2 separate regions of the Homo sapiens genome follow, and region 2 is linked to region 1. The links come from fine-mapping of genetic effects on plasma protein levels. A gene starts in region 1. The other region holds a variant in brackets. All regions are shown on one strand. Distances are between the middles of the regions.

Region 1 (11,475 bases):
GTGGTGGCTCACACCTGTAATCCCAGCACTTTGGGAGGCCAAGGTGGGCTGATCACGAGGTCAGGAGTTCGAGACAAGCCTGGCCAACACAGTGAAACCCGTCTCTACTAAAAATACAAAAATTAGCTGAGCGTGGTGGTGGGCGCCTGTAATCCCAGCTACTCAGGAGGCTGAGGCAGGAAAATCACTTGAACCCGGGAGGTGGAGGTTGCAGTGAGCCGAGATTGTGCCACTGCACTCCAGCCTGGGCAACAGAGCTAGACTCTGTCTTAAAAAAAAAAAAAAAAAAAAAAGACTGGTCAAAGTGGCTTACGTCTGTAAGATCAGCACTTTGGGAAGTGGAGGCAGGAGGATCTCTTGAGGCCAGGAGGTTGAGACTAGCCTGGACAACACAGTGAGACTCTATCTCTACAAAAAATTTTATAAATCAGCTAGGTGTGGTGGTGCAGGCCTGTAATCCCAGCTACTCAGGAGGCTGAGGTGGGAGGATCAATTGAGCCCAGGAATTTGAGGTTACAGTGAGCTATAATCATGCCACCATAAACACGCCTGGAGGACAGAGTGAGGCCCTGTTTCTAACATACACACACATATACACACAGAAACATCTCGAGAGGACACCTCCAAATGATGAAGCTATTTTGTTGGGTACTGCGGTGGCACCTGTGATTCCTCAAGTAGCTTGGAATCAGCGTGCTAACACCATAAAGTGGCTGCAAAAGTCCCAGTGAAGTCACTGCTGAGAGCAAACAGGCCTTACAGAGAAGTTCCAAGGGGACAGGAAATTTCCAGAGGCTTGAGAGGACAATGTTCAGGGGAATAAGTACTTGAAGGGAATTATCTAACAAGGTGTTAAAGTAACTAGCTTCTTAGACAAGATGACATCAGGAGGAAAAAAAAACTTATTAAGGCAAACATGTCAGTTTCAGGCCAACTAAGGCTGTCAGAGAGACATGGAACACAAGAAGAGAAGAGTTTTGAAATGTATTCCCATCAAGAGCCAAGAATAATGAACTTTTGAATGTAAAACTTAGTGTGTTCCAAAACAAGAAAGGAAAAATAACTTGTTACTCGGAATCGAAGCCAAAAGGAATCTCATTGCTTGGGGAGGAGGGATGGGAGGGTGGGGGTGGTCCTTGGCCTGGGAAGGAAAACTCCACCAGGCCTTCGGAGCTGGGCACGCCCTGTTCCCACAATTAAGAAAAAAAACGACGACCTAGAGCTCAAGGCCGGTGCTGACATCTGACCTACTGGATGGCAGCCGCCTGTAGGAACATCACCATAGACTATTGGAATTTTCTGGCAAGTACTGGGCACTAAATCAGAGATGTGTTTTTAGAGAATTCCATGCCAATACTGCTGTATAGAATCTTTTATTCATACTTTCCCACTAGGTTTGGGCCCCTCTAAGCTTTCACGAGTCAAAGACCCCTCCTGCTTGCTGAAACCACCCACGGAAGGCCGGACACCGAGGACCTGGCCGCCCAAGCAGAGGCGACTGACAAGCGCGGTCCGGGCTGGACGGCCCCACCTTCCCCGCCCGGGAGAGCCAGGCCGGACAGCGGCCTCCCTCAGACCCGTCCCCAAGGCCGAGCCTCGCCCTGGGCCGTGCTGGTGCCCCATTCGGGACGGAGCGGTGGCCCGTCAGCACTTCCACGGCCTCCTCAGCAGGCCAGATGGGCAGGGCCGGCCTGGTGTCTCCCCGCCTGGCCGCGCGCTCGCGGGCAGCGATGACCCCAGGCAGCGGGCGACCCCAGGCGGACGGCAGGCCGGGTCTGCTCACTCACCGTTCGCTGCCGCGGGCGCCTGCGGGGGCGTCTACATGCCGGACCGAGCCCGCAGGCCCCGCCGCCGCGCCGCCGCCAGCCGTCGCTACCTGGCCCTTGGCGCCCTGGCCGCCTGTTGCCCCATGGCCGCCCGGACCCCGGCGCCGGCGCCGCCGAGCAGCAATGCGCCGCGCCCGCCCACTGCGCAGGCGCACCCGCCACGCATGCGCGCTGCCGCGCACGTGGGGCGTCCCGCGCGTCTGCCGGGTCCCACCGGCGCCGGGACACCCCGCGCGGGCGGGAGGCGGCGGGCGTGGCGGGAAAGAGGCGGGCGGTGGGGAAGAGGGGCGAATCGCGGTGGAGAGCAGTGACCAGGGAGTGGAGGCGGGCAGCGGGGACAGGGGCGGGCGTCCGCGACTCGGGTAGGCGGGGGTCGGCGCCCCGAGGAGGGCGGCCCCCGGCTCCCGTCCCCACTCACCTGCCGCGTCCGGAGGGCGCCCCCGGGTCCGCCCGCCACGTCTACGCCTAGGCGCCCCCGACATTGTGATCCCAGCCCGGCGTCCCGCCCCCAACTCACCGCCACCGCGGGCGGGACCTCCCGGACCACGTGGGCCGGCTCAGGGGAGTGCAGGTGCCCCGCGAGAGCTGGCCCCGCCCGCCGCCGCTTCCCTAATTACCGGGCTGTGACACGGTGTGGGCCGAGCCGGATTTGGGAACCGAAACTTAGAGCAGCTGCGGCAGCGCTGCGCTCCCTCGGGGCTGTCCGTCGGGGCTGGGAGGGCGGCCCTGCGCCTGGGGGAACCGCGATCGGCCTCACGCCCACCTCTAGCGGCCAGGTGCGCCTTGCACGCCCACGAACGTCCTCAGAGGTCTACGCTTGGGATCCCAAGGCTGGCAGTGGAGGGAGGACCCGGTGGCCTGGGGCACCTCTAGGGGGACCAGGGAGCCGTGTTTTGCGCACCCCACAGGCTGGAGGACTCGGGGAGTTGGGGGAGGAGGCCAAAGCCACAGGAGCGGACTTTGTAGTGTTTGTTGGAACTGCGGGTCCCACCCAGCCCGCACTTGCTGAACTGGTGGCTGCTCATCAGCGCCTTCAGGCCTCAAATATCCCAATAATGTGCCCTATACCCAGTTCTCAGCTCTCGAGTCACTGTCAGGTAAACTGGCAATGCACGACCAGCTGCTCTAACCTGCTGGTCCCCCAGGTGCCAGACATTGTTTTGTTTTTCTGAGATAGTGTCTCATTCGTCCCCCAGGCCGGAGTCCAGTGGCGGGCTCACGGCTCACTGCAGCCTTGACCTCTCAGGTGCAAGCGATCCTTCCACTTCAGCTTCCCTAGTAGTTGGGACTACAAGTAGGTCCCGCCACACTCGACTACTTCATTCATATATATATATATTTGTGTGTGTGTGTGTGTGTGTGTGTAGAGATGAGGTTTTACCATTTTGCCCAGGCTGGGTCTCAAACTTCACCCGCCTCGGCCTCCCAAAGTACTAGGATTATAGGCGTAAGCCACTGCACCTGGCCCAGCCATTGTTTTCTGAGGTTCAGTCCCTGTCTATACTTTCTGTGTGATCACCTGGCCCAGGGTCGGTGTGGACCTGAGTCCTCTGCAGCCCTTCCCCACACCCGCATACCTGCTCTCTGGTCAGGACTCCTGGGACTTGAATCCAGAGACACGGAACACGGCCTGGCCAAGTCTTCCTGAAAAACACAGCTCTTCAGTTCAGGACCACAGTGAAGTACAGGGCACCAAGGGTGACTGGAAAGGGAAGCAAGGATCATGAGAACTTGGGGGATTTCTTAAGCTCTGTAACTTCTCCCGGGGTTATTTTGCAAACCCAACTGTTTCAAAGTGACCACCAGCCACACCCACAGAAGCGGCCTTGAGCTGCCCAGTTCTTTTTCTTTGGCGGGGGGAGAGGGGGCGGATAAGATCATTAACATAATAATGCGTGAGCTGAGTTTTTGCATATGATCATTAGCATAATAATGCTTGATCTAGATGGCGCACCCACAAGCCAGGCACTGAGCCAGGCCTCAGTAGAATCTTCTAGAGTGGAGGCAGTCAACTGCTTCTGCAGAGGCAACCAGTGACTGTCGTGGGCCCCAGGTCACACAGCAGGTGCCCTTCGCGTGTCCCGCTGTGTAGGGAGCTCCAGCAGCTGCCCCGTCTGTGGCATGAAAACCCTTTGTCTACCCTGGGCCTGGGCACTGCCTGCAGGAGAGCTTCCCTGTTTCAGAGATGAGAAAACAAAACCAGGGCTGTGGTTTCCTTCAGCTGACAGGTTGTGCAATTTCTCAGGGCAGGCCCCGGATATGACCTTGAAGATTCAGGGGCCAAGATCTCACACCCACACCTCACCCCAGGCCTGGCCAGCAATAACTAAGACCAAAGCTGGGAAGGCTCCTTAGGGCACCCAGAATGGTCCAAGAGGCAGCTTTGCTTGGGCTGAGACCAAAGGGAAGAGATGTTCCCGCAGCAGGAACAGAAGGGTCCAGGGCTATCATGGGGGCTTCTGCCAGATGGTGCACAGGAAGAGGCTCTGCCTTCAAGGGATTGGGGGTCAGGAAAGGCCCCCTCCTGCCTGACCAGGCCCCAGGGATGGGGCAGCAGTGGGTGGCATCCCCTGCCCTGACCTTCCTCAGCCCCAGGGCTGCCATTGCTCAAGGTGGCAGTGGACTCTTCACATAATTTCGCATTGTTTTTTGTATTCTTTAAGGATGGCTCCCATGTTGTTTACTTCAGAACCCCCAAAACCTGGACCCATCCTCTTCTGGGGGTCAGCAGGGATGGGGAGGGTGGAGGGAGAAGGGGGAACGGAGGCCATGAGGGATGGAGCAGGATGGGGTGCACTGGGGTACAGGTTGCTCCTGGGGAGGCTGAGGAGAGAGGGAAGTTGGCTTCAGGTGGCCTGGCTCCAGTAAACTGGGTGAACGAAGTCTGCCCAGAACCCACAAGGGTAAGTGGCCTGGAGCCTGGGGAAAGGATGACTGGGAAGGACTGAGGCTCCCAGTGAAGGACATCAGTATGGCAGGCTATCTGGTCATCTCATCCAGCCTCCAGCCAGCACCCGGCACAGGCCCTGCCCAGGCTGAAAGCCAGGATAGGGGCGTCTGCAGGGGCCAGTGTCTGGATCTGCTCACATGACAGTCTTCTGTTTGGCCTGGTTTGGGGCGAGGGGCAACCTCTTTCCCAGGATGCCAGCCATGTGCAGGGCATACTGAGGATTCAACAGTGGAAACCAAAGTCCATCAGGTGTTCACCTTCTAGTGGGGCAGACGGGCAAGAAGCAGAATTGGTGGGGGCAGGCAGGGGTTGGGGTACAGTTTTGACCAAGGTACCCAGGGACAAGTGTTTCTCTCTCAGGCAGAGGCAGCAGCAAGGACCAGGACCCTGAAGTGGTGAGAGCCTAGAGTGGGCGGGGATCATCAACAGTAACCACCTGGCAGGACTGGGACTCCCTGTGTCCTCACAAGATCCTTACCAAGCAGCCTAGTATAAGACGAAGTCTCGCTCTGTAGCTCAGGCTGGAGTGTAGTGGCATGATCTCAGCTCACTGCAAGCTCCGCCTCCCGGGTTCAAGCCATTCTCCTGCCTCAGCCTCCAGAGCTGGAGTTACAGGCGCACACCACTGAACCCGGCTCATTTTTTGTATTTTTAGCAGAGACGGGGTTTCATCATGTTGGCCAGGCTGGTCTTGAACTCCTGATCTCAGGTAATCCATCCACCTCGGCCTCCCAAAGTGCTGGGATTACAGGCGTGAGCCACAGCGCCCGGCCACAGCCTGGTACGTTTATTGTCCACATTTTTCACGCGGGGGCCAGAGGCACAGAGAGGCCAAGTAACTTGCTCAAGGTCACCCAGCGAGGAAAGGGAGCTGGGGGGTGGGGGTAGGGGACAGGGCGAGGCCAGAGAGTAGTGGGAGGGGCCGAGGCGGCCTTTCCCGGGAGCGCTCGGTTCCCGGCCGGCCCTTCTATTGGCCCCAGTCACTCAGGCTCCCAGGTCCGGCTCGGGGGGGAGCGGGGGGCCGCGCCAGGCCGCTGAAGTGTCCCCGTTTCGCGTGGGCAGAGCGCGCCTCCCCACGCATCCTGCTGAGGGCCAGCCTCTGCTAGGTGCGTGACACGGAGGGGACAGAACGGAAACCTTGTCCTGCTCAAGTGTGGACGTGCGTGCCACGTGCTAGAGTAAAATTGAGGTGGGGAACCTCCATCCCTGGGACATGGAGCACAGGGGCGACCCCGCGCCGCTTGGTCAAAGGAGGTCCGAGGCCCTGCAGGAACAGCCCACAGCCGGAGCGAGCTGCAGGTCACTCCACTGCCTGTGTCCACCTGCGACAGGTGCGCCCGCGCAAGCGGGGCGGAGCCAGGTGACCCGGACACAGGAAGCGCGCCAGGGGCCCCCACACCGCGGAGCTGCTGGCGACAAAGGGCGCTGCTCCTGCATAGGCCAGGCTAATGCAATCTACAAACTAGATTTCTGTGCCTACAGTTTGAAAATGATTGCAGTTCACTCAGCCAGTGTGGAATTATCCTCCTCTTTCCACACTGCCTTAGTCAGTGCCGCTGTCCAAGTGCACGTTGTTGGCGCCCGTTTTCATTTCCTGTTTTGCTAAGAAAGTGGGGCAGTGGCCTCCATGCCCGCCAAGGGACAGGCAGGCCGCCCCAGGGAGGGGTCCCCCTCAGCTCTGGCTCTTCCAGGCCAAAGCCAAGGGGAAGGGGCACCAGAGGGTCCCAGGTCCCACATGCCAGCTCCCTCAGTCTGCGGGGTGCCAGGCTAGGACACAGAAGCCAACAGGAATCCCCAAAGGGAGGAAGTGGAGTCGGGGGTGTGGCAGCCGTGCTGAGATGCTCGGCCTTTATTTACTCTGGGCAGGGACCAAGATAGGCCACTGCAGGCCGGCACCCTGCCTCCCGGCTGCTGGAGCCCCTCCCTCCCAGGAACTGCCAGCCAGGAAAGAGCCTCAGGTACTCTCTGCATTTAATTTTTAATTTTTTTTTTCTTTTGACGCCTCCAAGACAAGTTCAACTCTCTAGTGATTTTAAGTGGGGTTTTTGTAAGACAGCTGGCAGGGTTAGGGCTTGTGAAGAACTTGCATGTCTATGAAGAACTGATTTATTTCAGGGAAAAGTGGGGGATGACGAAGCCAGGCGAGCCCACCCCGTTCAGCCTGCCAATCACACCCACTTCAGCAGCCTAAAACAGCACCAGGTCACCCCACCAGGGAGACAACGCCATAGTGTCACTTGCAGTGCTGGCAGATGGGCACCCTTGGTGGCGTCAGAAACACACCCAGCACCTTGCCTGGAGCAGGGCGGCTGGGCCCTGCTCCGTGAATCCCAAGTGCCCTATGGGAGCCTCTCCGGCCAGGGACTGCCAGCCTAGAGGAGGGGCTGCTGGGTTCTCTGGTGCCCAGGGGAGGAGGGGGCCTACAGGTACTTTCTGCTGAGAGCCTTCTTCACTTACTAGGAAAAAGTTTGGCTGGGTGCGGTGGCTCGGCCTGTAATCCCAGCACTTTGGGAGGCTGAGGAGGGCGGATGACAAGGTCAGGAGATGGAGACCATCCTGGCTAAGATGGTGAAACCCCGTCTCTACTAAAAATACAAAAATTAGCCGGGTGTGGTGGTGGGCACCTGTAGACCCAGCTACTCGGAAGGTTGAGCCAGGAGAATGGCGTGAACCCAGGAGGCAGAGCTTGCAGTGAGCCGAGATCGCGCCACTGCACTCCAGCCTGGGCAAGAGCGAGACTCCATCTCAAAAAACAACAACAAATTAGCCGGGCATCTGGGCCAGGCGCGGTGGCTCACACCTGTAACCCCAGCACTTTGGGAGGCTGATGTGGGTGGATCACAAGGTCAGGAGATCGAGACCATCCTGGCAAACATGGTGAAACCCTGTCTCTACTAAAAATACAAAAAATTAGCTGGGCATGGTAGCAGGCGCCTGTAATCCCAGCTACTTAGGAGGCTGAGGCAGGAGAATCGCTTGAACCTGGGAGGTGGAGGTTGCAGTGAGCTGAGATCGCACCATTGCACTCCAGCCTGGGCAAAAAAGAGCGAAACTCCGTCTCAAAAAAAAAAAAAAAAAAAAATTAGCGGGGCGTCGTGGTACGTGCCTGTAATCCCAGCTACTTGGGAGGCTGAGGCAGGAGAATCACTTGAACCCAGAAGGCAGAAGTTGCAGTGAGCTGAGATAGCGCCACTGCACTCCAGCCTGGGCCACAGAGCGAGACTCCACATCAAGGGAGAAAAAAAAAAAAAGTTCCAGCTGCTGGAGCCATGGGAATTAAAAAATTACTTTTTTTTTTTTTTTGAGAGGCAGTCTTGCTCTCTCACCCAGGCTGGAGTGCAGTGGTGCGATCTTGGCTCACTGCAAACTCCGCCTTCCCGGGTTCATGCCATTCTCCTGCCTCAGCCTCCAGAGTAGCTGTGATTACAGGCGTGTGCCACCATGCCCAGCTAATTTTGTATTGCCTATTTAAGATTTTAAAAAATCACCAGTTTGGAAAGCAGGGAAGTGGATGGTTCTGGAGCCTAGGAGCGGCTATTTGGGACACACACAGCCATGGTTTTCCACACTACCATGGCCAGTGCTCATTTTTTTCTTACTAGATGCAGTTCTTTATATTCAGACCAAGAGGAACACTCAGTTCAGTCCCAAGGAAAGCTAGTCTCTGGAGTAACATCCTCAGACATTCTAAGGGAGGGAAATGGCAGAGGAGAAAGGCAAGGCAGCCGCCTGTGGAGACTCCCACGGTGCTGTGGGCAAGGCCTATGCCTGGGGAGGGGTCTGGGCGATGGCAGGTGGACCTCCCTGCTCTGCTGGCCTGTGAGGTGGAGCTTCCCAGGAACCCCTCCGAGGAGCCAATGCGCCACTCATGGATTCTGTGACGTGGTGGCGGCCATGGCACCGCCTGGCATGAGCAGGCCCGTCAGACCTCACAGCAACAGGGACAGCTTAGGGAAGCGGGCGCGTTGCAAACTGGAAGTGGACCCGTAAATAATCACCACACCAAAGTCCCTCATGTCAAACTGCTTTATTACATCTTAAATAACAGTACAGTTTAATATAGTATCTATCTTGCATCCAGCTTCCTTGCAGTACACTGACTTTAAAATTAAATACAAAAGGTGGAAAGGGGTAAGGGTGCAGAGAGCTCTACAGAGTTGTTGGACGGAAAGAGAAAGAAGGGGTTTCATTTGTATTCTCTTTGCCAGATCCAGGCCTACCGCAAGGTCACAGCACAGTTTTGTATAGAATGTTGCAGAAAACAGGATGGAGAAGCCACTACTGCTGCTATGAAGGAGTGCGGGGGGCGGGGCGGGGGGTCCCACAGAACCTGCTTTCCAAACGCTGCTGCTGAACACTGGCCTTGAAATGAACACCAGGACAATCTGTGTGTGATGGGAATGAGCCACCTCAGATGTGGAGGGCCCTGAAGAATCCATATAGGAGGGCAGGCTCTTCACTCCCTCTCCCTCCCTCTCTCTCCCTCCCCACCCTCAGAATCCAACAGCAGTCGTTTGCAACAGAACTTTTTTTTTTTTAAAGAAATAAAGAAAACAGTGACTTATCCCGCTACCCAAGCGTGTAGAGCCGCGCGCTGTACTGCTTCCGATATGTGCCACAGAGCAGCAACGAGAAGTGGACAGAGCCGCAATGGTTACAACTGTAAGAGGTTATTTCTTAAAAGAAAAAGAACACCTAAGGACTGAGTCCCATATGCACTTTTGAGCATTTCTACAGCATGCGATTCTAAGAGTAAACCCACCCAATATGGCAAACAATCAAAATTTTTAAAATTTAACTTAGAAAGTCTGAGATCATTATTTTCAAAACATTGATTTGTACATTGTTTCATACACAAATAATTGACTGACTATCCAAGCACAGGACAGGCATCTCTCTTGAAAACAGAGGTTCCTCCTAGTTGGGGGTGGGGTAGTGTTAGGCTATTATAAACTTCCCTCCAACTTCACAAGGAAACCCAAAGTGAGATTAAAAACTCAACTGAGAAGATAGACAGGATGGGTCAGGAGGAACATGGTGCTGGATCTGAGCTCACTTTTCAGCAAAGGTGAAGGATTCTCTGATCACGCATTTGAGACCGTCCCCGCATGTGCTTGGCCCCATGGCTTCTGAACATGTTCTTTTCTATGCCACGTTTGTGTGCAACAATGATCTGTGACATCAGACAGAAAATTAAAAACCAGGGACTGAATTTACATCATTGACAACATCAGAGAGGCTGCCCTAGACTCTCTGGTTTTGATTAACTGTTGAACACAAAGGAATACATTTTAAAAAGGAAATATGAATGCTTCCAAAATCTTGCTACAAACATGACTGAAATTTGGACACGATGACCAGATGAACAAAGCCCTCAGCATGTTTTGCATGAATGCCACAAAACAGGGTCACTGGTCTAAAATTCAAATACACTGGTGGAAAAGTGTGTCTGTCTGACAATTACACTCAAGTTTACCTTCTGGTTAACATTTTTATTATATATTTCCTTTTAAAATTCATTCAAGACAAAAAAGAAAACAAAGACGATGGCCCCGGAAGGAATGCACAATTTGTTTTAGTTTACAGCACAGAGATCTTTCTCTCAATGGGAATTGTGCTCTTGGTTTCAGCAATAAGTGAAGGAAAAAAGATCTTGCCCTTTTGAAGTTCTGAGGGGAGGTGTAGGGTGTCCACGTTAGTACGGTTGGATAGGATATGCTCTCATGGTAACGCGTCCAAGTTGGAATGGTCTTCCAGTCTCCATGGCATCCACATGCTGTTTTAAACAGAGTTTAAAGAAATGTGAAAAGAGGCAGAGAATCTAAGTGCAGACGCACAGCCAGGTCACTGCTCTTCCCATCACTGCATGAGTGTCTGCAGCTGAGGGCACGTGACTTCAGCTTTCTGTAAACGTTTCCCACAACACAATTCCAAATCAATGCTACATCAACATTTATCTAGAAACCGTTAATGACAACTTCAAATGTTCTATGAGAAACACGCACAGTTCTCCTCAGAGAAGGGCATTTGGGCTGCTGCATTACCTACTGGCGTTAGTTCCAGATCTTGAGGAAGCTATCCCAGGACCCTGTCGCCACAGCCATGCCATCGTCAGTCACGCCCAGGCAGCTGACGCGGTTGTCATGCCCAGCCAAGACACCTGGGAGCAAACAACAGCAGAATCACACCAAAGCCCAGAGGCATCGATCTCACCTGTGTGCCATGTTGTGACGAGGACGGATGGTGCATCTCTCATGGGACAAGACCCAGAGTCTCCCACGGCCAGGAAGGGAGGGAAAGTTGCATCCACGTGGGGAATTAACCTGCAGCATATGGCCAGCCTTGTTAAAATTCAAAGACACGCACACACACGCAATCGATAAATCCAGAGCCCCTGGCATTGACTTCTCAGCACTCACTTATAAAACTTAAAAAAAGAAGCAAAGGCCACTATCAAAAAAATCAAAACTATCATCAGACGCAGTGGCTTAGGCCTGTAATCCCAGCACGTTGGAAGGCCGAGGCAGGCAGATCATGAGGTCAGGACTTTGAGACCAGCCTGGCCAATATGGTGAAACCCCATTTCTACTAAAAATACAAAAACCAGCAGGGCGTGGTGGTGCGGGCCGTAGTCCCAGCTACTCAGGAGGCTAGGGTAGGAGAATCATTGGAACCCAGGAGGTGGAGCTTGCAGTGAGC
Region 2 (9,870 bases), 33 kb before region 1:
AAGGCAAATAAGAAGCAGGAAGGGTGCATGCTCCTTCTCTACTGCCCTGTAACAGTCATTCCACACTTACCACCTCAAAACAACAAATGCTTTTGATGTTGGCTCCTGTGGGGCAGCAATCTGCGGGAAGCTTAGCCAGGCACCTCTGGCTTAAGGTCCCTCCTGAAGCTGCAGTCACACCATGGACCAGGGCTGTGACCTCATCCGAAGGCTCAACTGGGGCTGAGGCCCACCTCTGAGCTCACTCAGGTGGACGCTGGCTGGGTTCAGTTCCTTGCTGGCTATAGGTGGAAAGGGCCCCCACCAGTTTCTTGCCAGCTTCTCCACAGGACGCCCCACAGCCTGACAGGAGCTTTCATCCAGCAAGCTCATCAGGGAGTGGGAGAGAGCAGCCAGGACAGGAGCCCAGGCCTTTCTGAACCTCATCTCAGAAGTGACATCCTTCCCTTCTGCTGTCTGGGCACAGCTCCCCGGGTGGAGCCCGAGGACTAGAAGGAAAAGAAAACTTGGATTTAAAATGGGATAAAGCCATAGGAGCTGCTCGTCCCACCACAGGAATCTCAACGCCGGGTTACTGACAAAGCGTCACTTTGCACCTCGTCCAACTGTGCAGACCTCTCCTAGCCAGGCCCCTGCACCAGAGGTTAAGAATCCGTGCCCCTGGTCAGGAAGTCCAGGTGGGTTCAAACGGCCAGCAGGGAATTTCAGGCAAAATGTGTCCCAAATCTTCAAACCACGCCCCAGAACTCAGACCTCCCCCTGGGAGTTCGTCCCAAGGAAACCACCTGCAAGAGGCTCAGGCTGCAGGGGACACTCCGCTTCCAAAACCCGGAAGCTGGAGACCACACAAGTGCCCAACGCCAAAGGCACCCCGTGGAGGGACGCCCTGTGCCCTCCCCCGACCAGGTGACCCGCTGCGCCCTACACATCTTCACCAGGAAACATCTGTTATCGATGTGGACGAAGCGCAGCCTGCACTCCCAGATCCGCTCATTTTCGTTCTGCCCTCCGTTTTACGATTCGCCTACACTGAAAATGCGTGAGTGGAGTGGAAAGCCTTCCTACTCCTGCCTCAGCGACCCCTTCTAAAATACTGCCTCGTTTGGCCTGAAAATGTGATTTGCAGGCTTCCTGAGCAAAGTAGATTTCACTCCATTAAAGAAAAAAAAAAAGAAAAGGCACCGAACGGGGCTCGGCTGTCGGGAGTTTTGCTTTAGTTTTTTGCGTGTTTTGTTTTGTGTTTTTTTGTTGTTGTTGTTCTTTTTGCGGCCACGCACACCGCGTTCCCAGGCTTCAGGGCGTGGGGGTCGCCGTGGACTCCCGGACGTGAAAACGCTTAAAGCCAGCTGGGAAAACCCCACCAGCGTTTTCCGCGCACAGCGCCAGCCATAGGAAAGGACCCCCAGGAGCGAATCCGGGCAGGGAAACCCCGGACGCCCGCACACTCAGCATCAGTACCGGCACCCAGCACCCAGCACCGAGCACCGAGCACGCAGCACCAAGCACCGATCACCGAGCAGAGCACCCCGCACGCAGAACCCACCGAGAGCCTGATGCAGTCTCCGCCGCAGGCATAGCGCTAGGCCCCGGCGCCTTCACAACAAAGGGACGCTGGCGGGCGGGGCCTAAGAGGTGCGCGGTGGAGGGGCCGGGCGCGAGGCCGCGGAGACAGCTCGGAGCTCGGCACTGGGGAGTGGCACAGCGCTGGCGGATCCAGGTGGGCTTCACGGGGCGCCCGCGGGACCGGAAATGACGCGCAGAACCCTGCATCGGGCTCCTCGCTGCCCCGCGGGCGCCGCTCCTCAGTGCCCCAGAGCCACGGAGCCGGGGAAACGCGCCGCGGCCCACAACGCCCCCGCGGCTGCCCGTTGGTTCCGCCCGAGCCGTTCTACTCCAGGCAGACGGGAGGAGAAACACGGCGCGCTCAGCGTCCCCTGCCCCGTTGGTTCTGCTCGGGCCCTTCCACTGCAGGCCGACGGGGGTGGAAACACGCAGTTTTTTTTTTTTTTTTTTTTAAGGTCTAGGGTAACACGGGGCTTTTAAGTGCCTCTCCGCGGCCGCCTGGTGGTCCAGCCCGGGCCGCTGCAGTGCAGCCACACGGGGAGGGACACGGCGCGCCGAGTGCTCCGGGCGGCCGCACGTTGGTTCCGCCCGGGCCGTTCCACTGCAGGCAGAGGGAGAGGACGACGGTGCGCGTAGTGCATCCCCGTGGCCCGTTGGTTCCGCCGGGGCCGTTCCACTGAAGGCAGAAGGGGGGGGAACCGTGGCCCCACCCCCCGCGGCAGCCCGTTGGTTCCGCCCGGGCTGTTCCACCAGCGGCACTTCAGGGCGGGATCGGCCAGTCTGTGGAGGCAGCGGCCTCTAAGCCCCGGAGGGTTTACTGCCCAGGTTTGGGTTCCAGGAATAAGAAATCCACTGAATAGGCTTAACTTAGAAGACACAAAGGCGCCTCCTGGCGGAAGTGGCCACGCTCCGCCCAGCCTGAGGGAAAGCTGCTCTGACAGCTGGGCCCGGAGCTGCGGGGGGCGGGGCCGCCGCGCGGGGTGAGGACTCGCCTCAGGGCGCTGATTGGCTGGTGGCGCGCTCCGGGGCGGGGCCTTCGTATCCAGGCTGGCGTCGGGGCTGCCGCGGGACATCCGGAGCAGACACCCGCGGGCGCGCCTGCGGCCCCGAGGACCCCCGGCTCCGGAGCTTCGTCGAGCGTTTTCCTAGCGTTACTTTCCCAAATAATTTTCAGGAATGAAGTTACGGCTAAAGGGCTCTTTAGAGATTACTTTTGGGCCGGGCCCGGTGGCTCACGCCTGTAATCTCAACACTTTGGGAGGCCGAGGCCGGCGCATCACGAGGTCAGGAGCTTGAGACCAGCCTGGTATGGCCAACGTGGTAAAACGTCGTCTCTACTAAAAATACAAAAATTGGCCGGGCGTGGTGGCGGGCGCCTGTAATCCCAGCTACTCCGGAGGCTGAGGAAGGAGGATCACCTGAACCCGGGAGGCGGAGGTTGCAGTGAGCCGAGATGGCGCCACTGCACTCCAGCCTGGCGACAGAGTGAGACTCCGTCAAAAAAAAAAAAAAAGGAAGAAAGAAAATTATAAAATGAAGTGAAATTAACGCAGTGGAGTGCCACCTGCCTGCTGCCTGAGTTCACTATCCACACGGAGTTCATAAATTTGAGAGCAGTTTACAAAGTAGATTCTCCTACTTTCCAGGAAACCCAGAAATGTCTGGTGATTTGCCCAACAGTCTCAGCTGTTGTGGTCAGCAGGGCCGCTGTGGTATCCAAATGATTTCAAAAGCAGATTTATAAAAAGTACTCCTTGTTTTTTTTTGAGATGGAATTTCGCTCTCATCGCCCAGGTTGGAGTGCAGTGGCACGATCTCAGCTCACTGCAACCTCCGCCTCCCGGGTTCAAGTGATTCTCCTGCCTCAGCCTCCTGAGTAGCTGGGATTACAGATGTGTGCCCTCACGCCCAGCTAATTTTTATATTTTTAGTAGAGACAGGGTTTCACCATATTGGCCAAGATGTTCTCCATCTCCTGACCTTGTGATCTGCCCGCTTCAGCCTCCCAAAGTGCTGGGATTACAGGCGTGAGCTACCCCACGCCCGGCCTTTATTTTTTTTTGAGACGGAGTCTCACTCTGTCGCCCAGGCTGGAGTGCAGTGGCGCGATCTCGGCTCACTGCAAGCTCCACCTCCCAGGTTCAAGAGATTCTTCTGCCTCAGCCTCCCGAGGAGTTGGGATCACAGGCACCCGCCACCATGCCCAGCTAATTGTTTTGTATTTTTAGTAGAGACGGGGTTTCACCGTTGTTAGCCAGGATGCTCTTGAACTCCTGACCTCATGATCCACCCACCTTGGCCTCCCAAAGTGCTGGGATTACAGGTGTGAGCCACCACGCCTGGCCTCTCAAAGTTTTTATAGCAAAGCCTTACATTTCATGAGGAACCATGCATTTTATTTTATTTTTGAGATGGGGGATCTCGCTACTTTGCCCAGGCTGGGCTCAAACTCAGGGCTCTCTGGCCTCAGCCTCCCGAGTAGCTGGGTCTGCAGGTGGCTGTCACCGTGCTGGGCCTGGGGTGTGCGTATTAATGATTTTGGAATAGTGTCTGGAAGCCTGTGTGCCTTCCTCTCTTCCTCTCCCCAGAAGGACCTCCCACCTCGTCCTCCCAAAGTGTTGGGATTACAGGTGTGAGCCACCATGTCCCCTCTCTTTGCTATTTTGCCTGGGAGGAGTGTATTAATAATTTTAATTTTAAATTTCTTTGATTATGTTCTAGTTTGATTATTGATCATTTACTTCTTAGCTATTTATATTCTTCCTTGAGTCATCGGTTTCTGCCCTTTGACAATTTTTCTGTGAATGTTTTGTGTTGATTATATGAGCTTTGACTGTATTGAGAACATCCACGCATTGTATTATTGCAACTGTTTTCCTAGTTGAGAACATCGACCTGCTGTATTATTGCAAATGTTTTCCTGCTTGCATGTAGTCATTTGTTATGCATATTAATGAATTTCTATCCACATGACGTGGAGTCAGTTAGGAATCAGTTAGGACGCCCTCGCTGTGTGGGAGACTGATGGGTCCAGGCGCTGTGCAAACCCCGCCTCCAAAGTGCATCCTTGGCTCACTGGGACCTTCCGGGTTGTGCTGCTCTTGCTTCACAGCCTCTCTGGGTCTCCCTGCCGTCTGCTGACCTCGGGGCAGGGTCTACCCAGGCTGAGCGGCCCATGGGCTGTGGGATTCCTTTCCTCTGCCTTCAGGTCCTGGATGATGTAGAAGGCAGGAAGGAAAGCAGTCATGGCTAGCTCTGTCCTGCCCCCTTCGGGGTCCCCCCCGGCCCACAGGCTCCTCCTTGTCCCCCAGCCAGCCTCAGTCTGGGTCTGGGCTCCCGCTGGGGAGGAGGGTGAGACCTGCCGGCCCAAAGGAGCTGAAGTTTCCCAAGGGGCGTTGAGGACAGCAGGGAAGTGTGGGGTGTGAACTGA[G/C]GCCCCAGAGAAGGGTCTGTGCCAAGGCCCCATGGGTGGGGAGGAAGAAGGAAGCGTCCCCACCTGGAGACCCAGCCTGCAGGCCACTCGGCCACCTGCGCAGAAGTAGGGGAGCAGCAGCCGCTCATGCCCCTGCAGTTTGTCCTCATCAGCAGGTGGGGAAACTGAGGCCGGGGAGTTCTCCAGGCCAAGGTCACTCACGGGCAAGTTCCCGCAGCCTTTGGACCCTCCATACACGTCAGGGCCGCTCATGCTTTCCTGGGCCCTTCACTGGTTTGGAGGAAGCTTCCTGTTGCCCAGAGCGCACTGCCTGTCTCTGAGTGTATGTGTCTCAGTGGCGTCCATGTGTATTTTTCTCTGTGTGTATCTGTGTGAGTCTGTGTGTGTGGTGTGTTTGTGTCTGAGTGTGTGGTGTTAGCGTGTCTCAGTGGCGTCCATGCATATTTTTCTGTGTGGTGTGTCTGTTTGTGTGTGTGTGAATCTACGTGGGTGTTTGTCCATCTTTTTGTCTGGCCTCCTGTCCCCTCTGCACAGAGCAGCTGGGTGGGGATGCTGGTCCTGGGGGCTTGTCAGCAGGATGTGGGCGTGGGGCAGCCCTGGGTGAGGCCTGAGTACAGGCCCCAGGTGCCTCCTGCACAGGGGTGGCTGAGCCAGCTCCTCTGTGGCTCCCGGGTCCCCACCGCCGGTCACTGGGCACCACCTGTCCTGGCCACCCACTCCTGCCCACCCTGCTCTCCGCAGGGGCCTCCTTCCTCTTTCAGCTGTGCGCCCTGGTTGTGGAGGCTCCTAAGGAGGTTGTGGCCTCGGTTTACCACCTGCCTTGGCTCCTTGGTGTTGCCAGACCCTGAAGGCAGCCCATGCCCTGGCTGAGATCCTTCTGGGGCGGGATGTGCTGGAAGCAGCTGAACCACGTGGTGATGTACCAGCTCCTGCTGTCCCCTACATCCCCAGCACCGCCAGCCTTCCCTGGGCTCCTCCGGCCGGCTCCTCTACCCTGTACCCGCCCCACCCTGCTACCACCCCCCAACCAGACTTCCAGCTCCAGGCAGGGTCGCAGCCTCCTGGGCTCCCAGCAGGACAGGCCTCACCCAGACCCCGCAGGAGCCATGGGACTTGGGCTGGGTCTTTGGGCCTGGCTGCAGCCCCTTTGGACCTGACCTGAGGAGACACCCTGGCTGTGGGAGGCAGGGTGGGGGTGCCGGGCCCAGCACAGAGGTGCCCAGGGTGCAGGCTGGCACTGGCCCGGCAGGGACCGTGGATGCCGCCGTTTCAGGCTCGAAAAGGTTTCCATGCCCCAGAGCCTGAGCCCGGCAGCCCCCGAGGATGTCTTGGGGACTCTGTGCTCCCCAAAGCCGAGAAGGTTAGGCTTGACCCACAGCCTCTTCCAGGCCGGGGAGGCAGAGGCGCTCCAGGTCGGTAGGGCGGGGCCCACAGCCCAGGGTTTCACGTCCCCAAAACGGGGCAGGGTGCTGGAGGCGCAGGTGTCCACAGGGTGGTCGTTTTGGTCTCTCCTGGACTTGCACGCGTGTAGTGCAGACTGGCTGCCGGCAAAGCCCTGAGCCACATTCATCTGGGCCTTGTTAGGACAACAGGGACGGTGCGGGGTGGGGGGGTTGCGGGGCGCAGGACCACGTCAGTGGAGGGAGGGAGGCCGATATCGGTGCCCAGGCTGGGCCCAGGGGCCAGCGGGTCCTCACCTGGCTTGTGGCTGCCCCTGTTAGGCAGCCCGGATGGAGGGGCTCTTCCAGCCCTGCTGGCCCCGGGAATGCAGGGACTCAATTCCCCCTGGTCTCAGTGGCTCTTCCGGGAGCAACACAGCCTGCCCGAGTCGACACCACCCCTCGGGTTTGAGTCCCTTCTGTCTACCCCTACCCCCGCCAGGGCACTGCCCCCTTGCCCGGAAGAGGCAGCGGCACCCCCAGCCCCTTGGGGAGGATGCCCTGCCGGCCCCACACTCGGTGGATGGGCATTTTGGGGCTAGGATTTAATGGGGGTGACCCTGCCCGACCCCTCTATGTTGGTTCCACGGCGTCAGAAGAAAGCTGTTATTAACCCAGCTTATTTTCTACAAGTCTTGTTTATTGAAAGGATCTGAAAAGCGTAATAAGGCTTTCAATGACATTTAATACATTTTCAAGAAATTAATATGAAACATTAAAATTTACTTCAAAAATCCAAAGTTTTCTAGATCATTCCCATCTCACGCTGCTTTAGAGGTCAGTTCACACCTTCTGTGTTCAGATGAGCGGCTGGAATTCTGAACACTGCCGTCTTCCAGCCCTAACGCTGGGCGCTGGTCCCTCTCTCCTAAGCCCACGGCTGGGCTTCCCCTGTGCCCAGGGTCATGGCGGACTTCAAGCCAGGCCGGCTGCCCAGAATCACACTCAGGGTTTTTGGACGCTCAAGTCCACAGATGCTGAGGTGCCCAGACGAGGGTGAGCAGGGAGACACATGCCTCGGAGAACGTGCCCAGGCTGGGCCAGGCGGCTGCGGGAAGCTCCTCACGGGCAGAGGAGAACGTCTTGTGCCTTCCTTATCGATCTCCAGCAGATGAGGGCAACTTCGTGTGCAAAACTCAGAGAGCAGTTACTCAAAAAAAAGACACCCGGGCAGCAGTAACCAGGACACCAGGGTCCGACCACGGCCTCCACACACCTGTGCCCGTGGAAGACGCGGGCGCCGGGGTAGGCAGCATCCACGTGCTCCACAGCTGCCGGTGCTGGGCAGGCTGGAGACTCACGGGAGAGGCAGGAGGAGAATCAGCGTGTTGAGTCCCTCGCTGTGTTAGTGTGAAAAATTCTCATTACAGTTGCAAATAAAAGGGATCACGATCACTAGCCCCGGAAACCCTCATCTCCCGGACCATCAGGATCGCACTGAACAGAATGGTCCCCTAATGGTCCCTGAGGACAGCGTCTTGCAGAACATAAATGTAAACATTGAATGGCAGACGACTCCCTTCCCCTTGAAATCTTCACAAAAGTGTGTACGAGAAAGTATGTACATCAGCACTTCAGAAAGTTTAAAAGAGTCTCTAAAAAGTATATACAGGATTTAAACTACCTTCCTGGGAGCAGAAGCTACGTGAGGAATGTGTGGGTCGCTGGCGATGCCAGCCCCCTTCCCGCTGAGTGTCCCAGACTCAGTGCTGGCCTCAAGCGGGGAGGGCTGGATGGCAGGGGACGCATCCAACCCTCTCCAGAAACTGAGCAGAACAAAACCGCCTTGCCAGCCACTGGCAAGACCATGCTTTCAATGGCGCCTCCGCCAGGGGCTTCCCTGCAGAAGTTTTAGGGGAAGAGGTGCAGGTCAAGGGGAAAAGCATGGCAGCTCAAGGAAGGTTTTTGGCTGAGACATTTATTATCAACATTGAAGGACAGGTCGAGTCATTCTGACTCCTCTGAATTTCAACCGACTGATTTGCGGAAAAATATCCTGGCATGGAAATTGCGGCAGCTGGAGGCCGCGCTCCAGGGACCCACCGCGGGGTGTCAGCAGGACAGAAGCACTCCCAGCCCATTTCTCACGCTTCTTTAGAAATGCAAAAAAAGTCAGACATTTTAAAAAAACAGCTGATCTGGACAAAAGGCAGACCCAGGCTCTAACCCAGCTACAGAAAGGAAGTGGCCGTGCCACTGAGACAGGCGGTCACAGACACACGCAGATTGGTCTGTCCCCAGAGGGCGCTTGGAGGGCAGCGGAAGGATTCGGGCCTGGATAGGGGCTTGACCTAGCCCTCCTCCTCCTCCTCCTCCTCCTCCTCGAAGTGGGCTTGCTTCTTCCGGACGTTCCAATGCAGGCACTGGGCGAGGCTCTCAAACCAGTCGCTCACGGGGTCCCGCACACAGATGGAGGGGAGCGGGTAGCATGAGGTAGTGATGCTGATGCTGGGACGGGAGAGCAGCAGCCTGAGCCAGGGCTTCCAGAAAGGCCCACCCCCGGCCAAGAACCCTTCCTCCCTCCCTCCCTGGGAATGGCCGGGACTCTTTTCCTGTGGGGCCGGGCAGCCCCTCCCCGAGGCAGGCTTGAGCAGTGCCCCATGGGTGCTGGGACAGAGCCATCCCAGGTCCTGGAGGGGACGGTGCAGGGAACTGACAAACTCTGCCCCAGGGCCCTCAGGGGTGAGGTCCCAGGAGGTGGGTGGGGGTGGGCAGCAGTGCCAGGGGGGACACCCTCAGGCCTCTGCTGGGGCCAGGCCTGCATGTGCCACCGTATGCGACCCGCTGCCCCCAGGACGGGTGCCCCGACTGTGATGCTGCAAGACCCAGGGACTCAGGCCCTGTGGTGCCCTAGGGGACAAGCTGTGTCTACAGGCCAACCGCAAGAGGGCAGGCGCTGCCTGGCCCGGGGAGGAGGTTGGCAGGCAGCGCCCAGCCCGGCATGCAGCCCACACCTGTCTCCATGGCGGATCTCTTGTCTCTTCCGTCCATCAAAGGACACCCATGCTGTGTTCCTTGCTTCAGGTGACAGCATGATCTGAGGGTCAAGCAGGGAGAGGTGTGGGCCCCCAGCTGTGGGGAGGACGCTTCTAGGCACCCACCCCTGAGTGCTCGCCAGAGGTCGAAGGTTGGGCAGCTCTGACCCTGCCTTGCGGACGGTGCAGTGCACGTCCTACAGGCACCGGCCCAGCTCAGCACCGCCAGAGACCAACAATGGCAGAAAGCCCCTCAGACCCGGGCCCTGGGCACCTTGATGGACAGAACTCGGGCACCAGCAAGGGAAGGCTTGCATCTGAGGGGGCACAGGATGGCCCTAGGATGACGAGGCCGCGTCTGAGGCTGGAGCCAGCATGGCAGAGCGGGGTGCTAGGTCCCGGCTTTGTGTTGCACGGGGTCAAATGACTCACAAACCGGAAAAGGAGTGTCGTTGGCTCTGAC

The links. PIP is the chance, under the fine-mapping model, that this variant and not a neighbour inherited with it causes the effect. The UK Biobank Pharma Proteomics Project read protein levels with antibody pairs (Olink). The fine-mapping took linkage between variants from a reference panel, not from the people measured, so its PIPs are less certain.
Region 2: its variant is fine-mapped to the plasma level of the NADK protein (UK Biobank, PIP above 0.99).

The regions. Positions count from the first base shown.
Region 1 is chr1:1,776,502-1,787,976 of GRCh38, forward strand. It overlaps NADK (NAD kinase), which reads right to left and starts at 1,969. Exons shown (of 12, transcript NM_023018.5): 1 at 1,788-1,969. It overlaps GNB1 (G protein subunit beta 1), which reads right to left. Exons shown (of 12, transcript NM_002074.5): 11 at 10,821-10,936; 12 at 8,785-10,552. The coding sequence ends at 10,830. RefSeq lists silencers at 1,485-2,684, 6,269-6,563 and enhancers at 3,745-3,914, 3,925-3,984, 3,995-4,064, 4,075-4,174, 6,484-6,653.
Region 2 is chr1:1,744,181-1,754,050 of GRCh38, forward strand. NADK (NAD kinase) reads right to left here. Exons shown (of 12, transcript NM_023018.5): 11 at 9,387-9,469; 12 at 7,052-8,880. The coding sequence ends at 8,724. LOC112268218 (a long non-coding RNA gene) reads left to right here and starts at 1,639. Exons shown (of 2, transcript XR_002958243.2): 1 at 1,639-1,717; 2 at 5,735-7,562. It also overlaps the pseudogene SLC35E2A. RefSeq lists a silencer at 2,122-2,171 and an enhancer at 8,944-9,473. The variant G/C (reference allele first, on the strand shown) is at 4,994.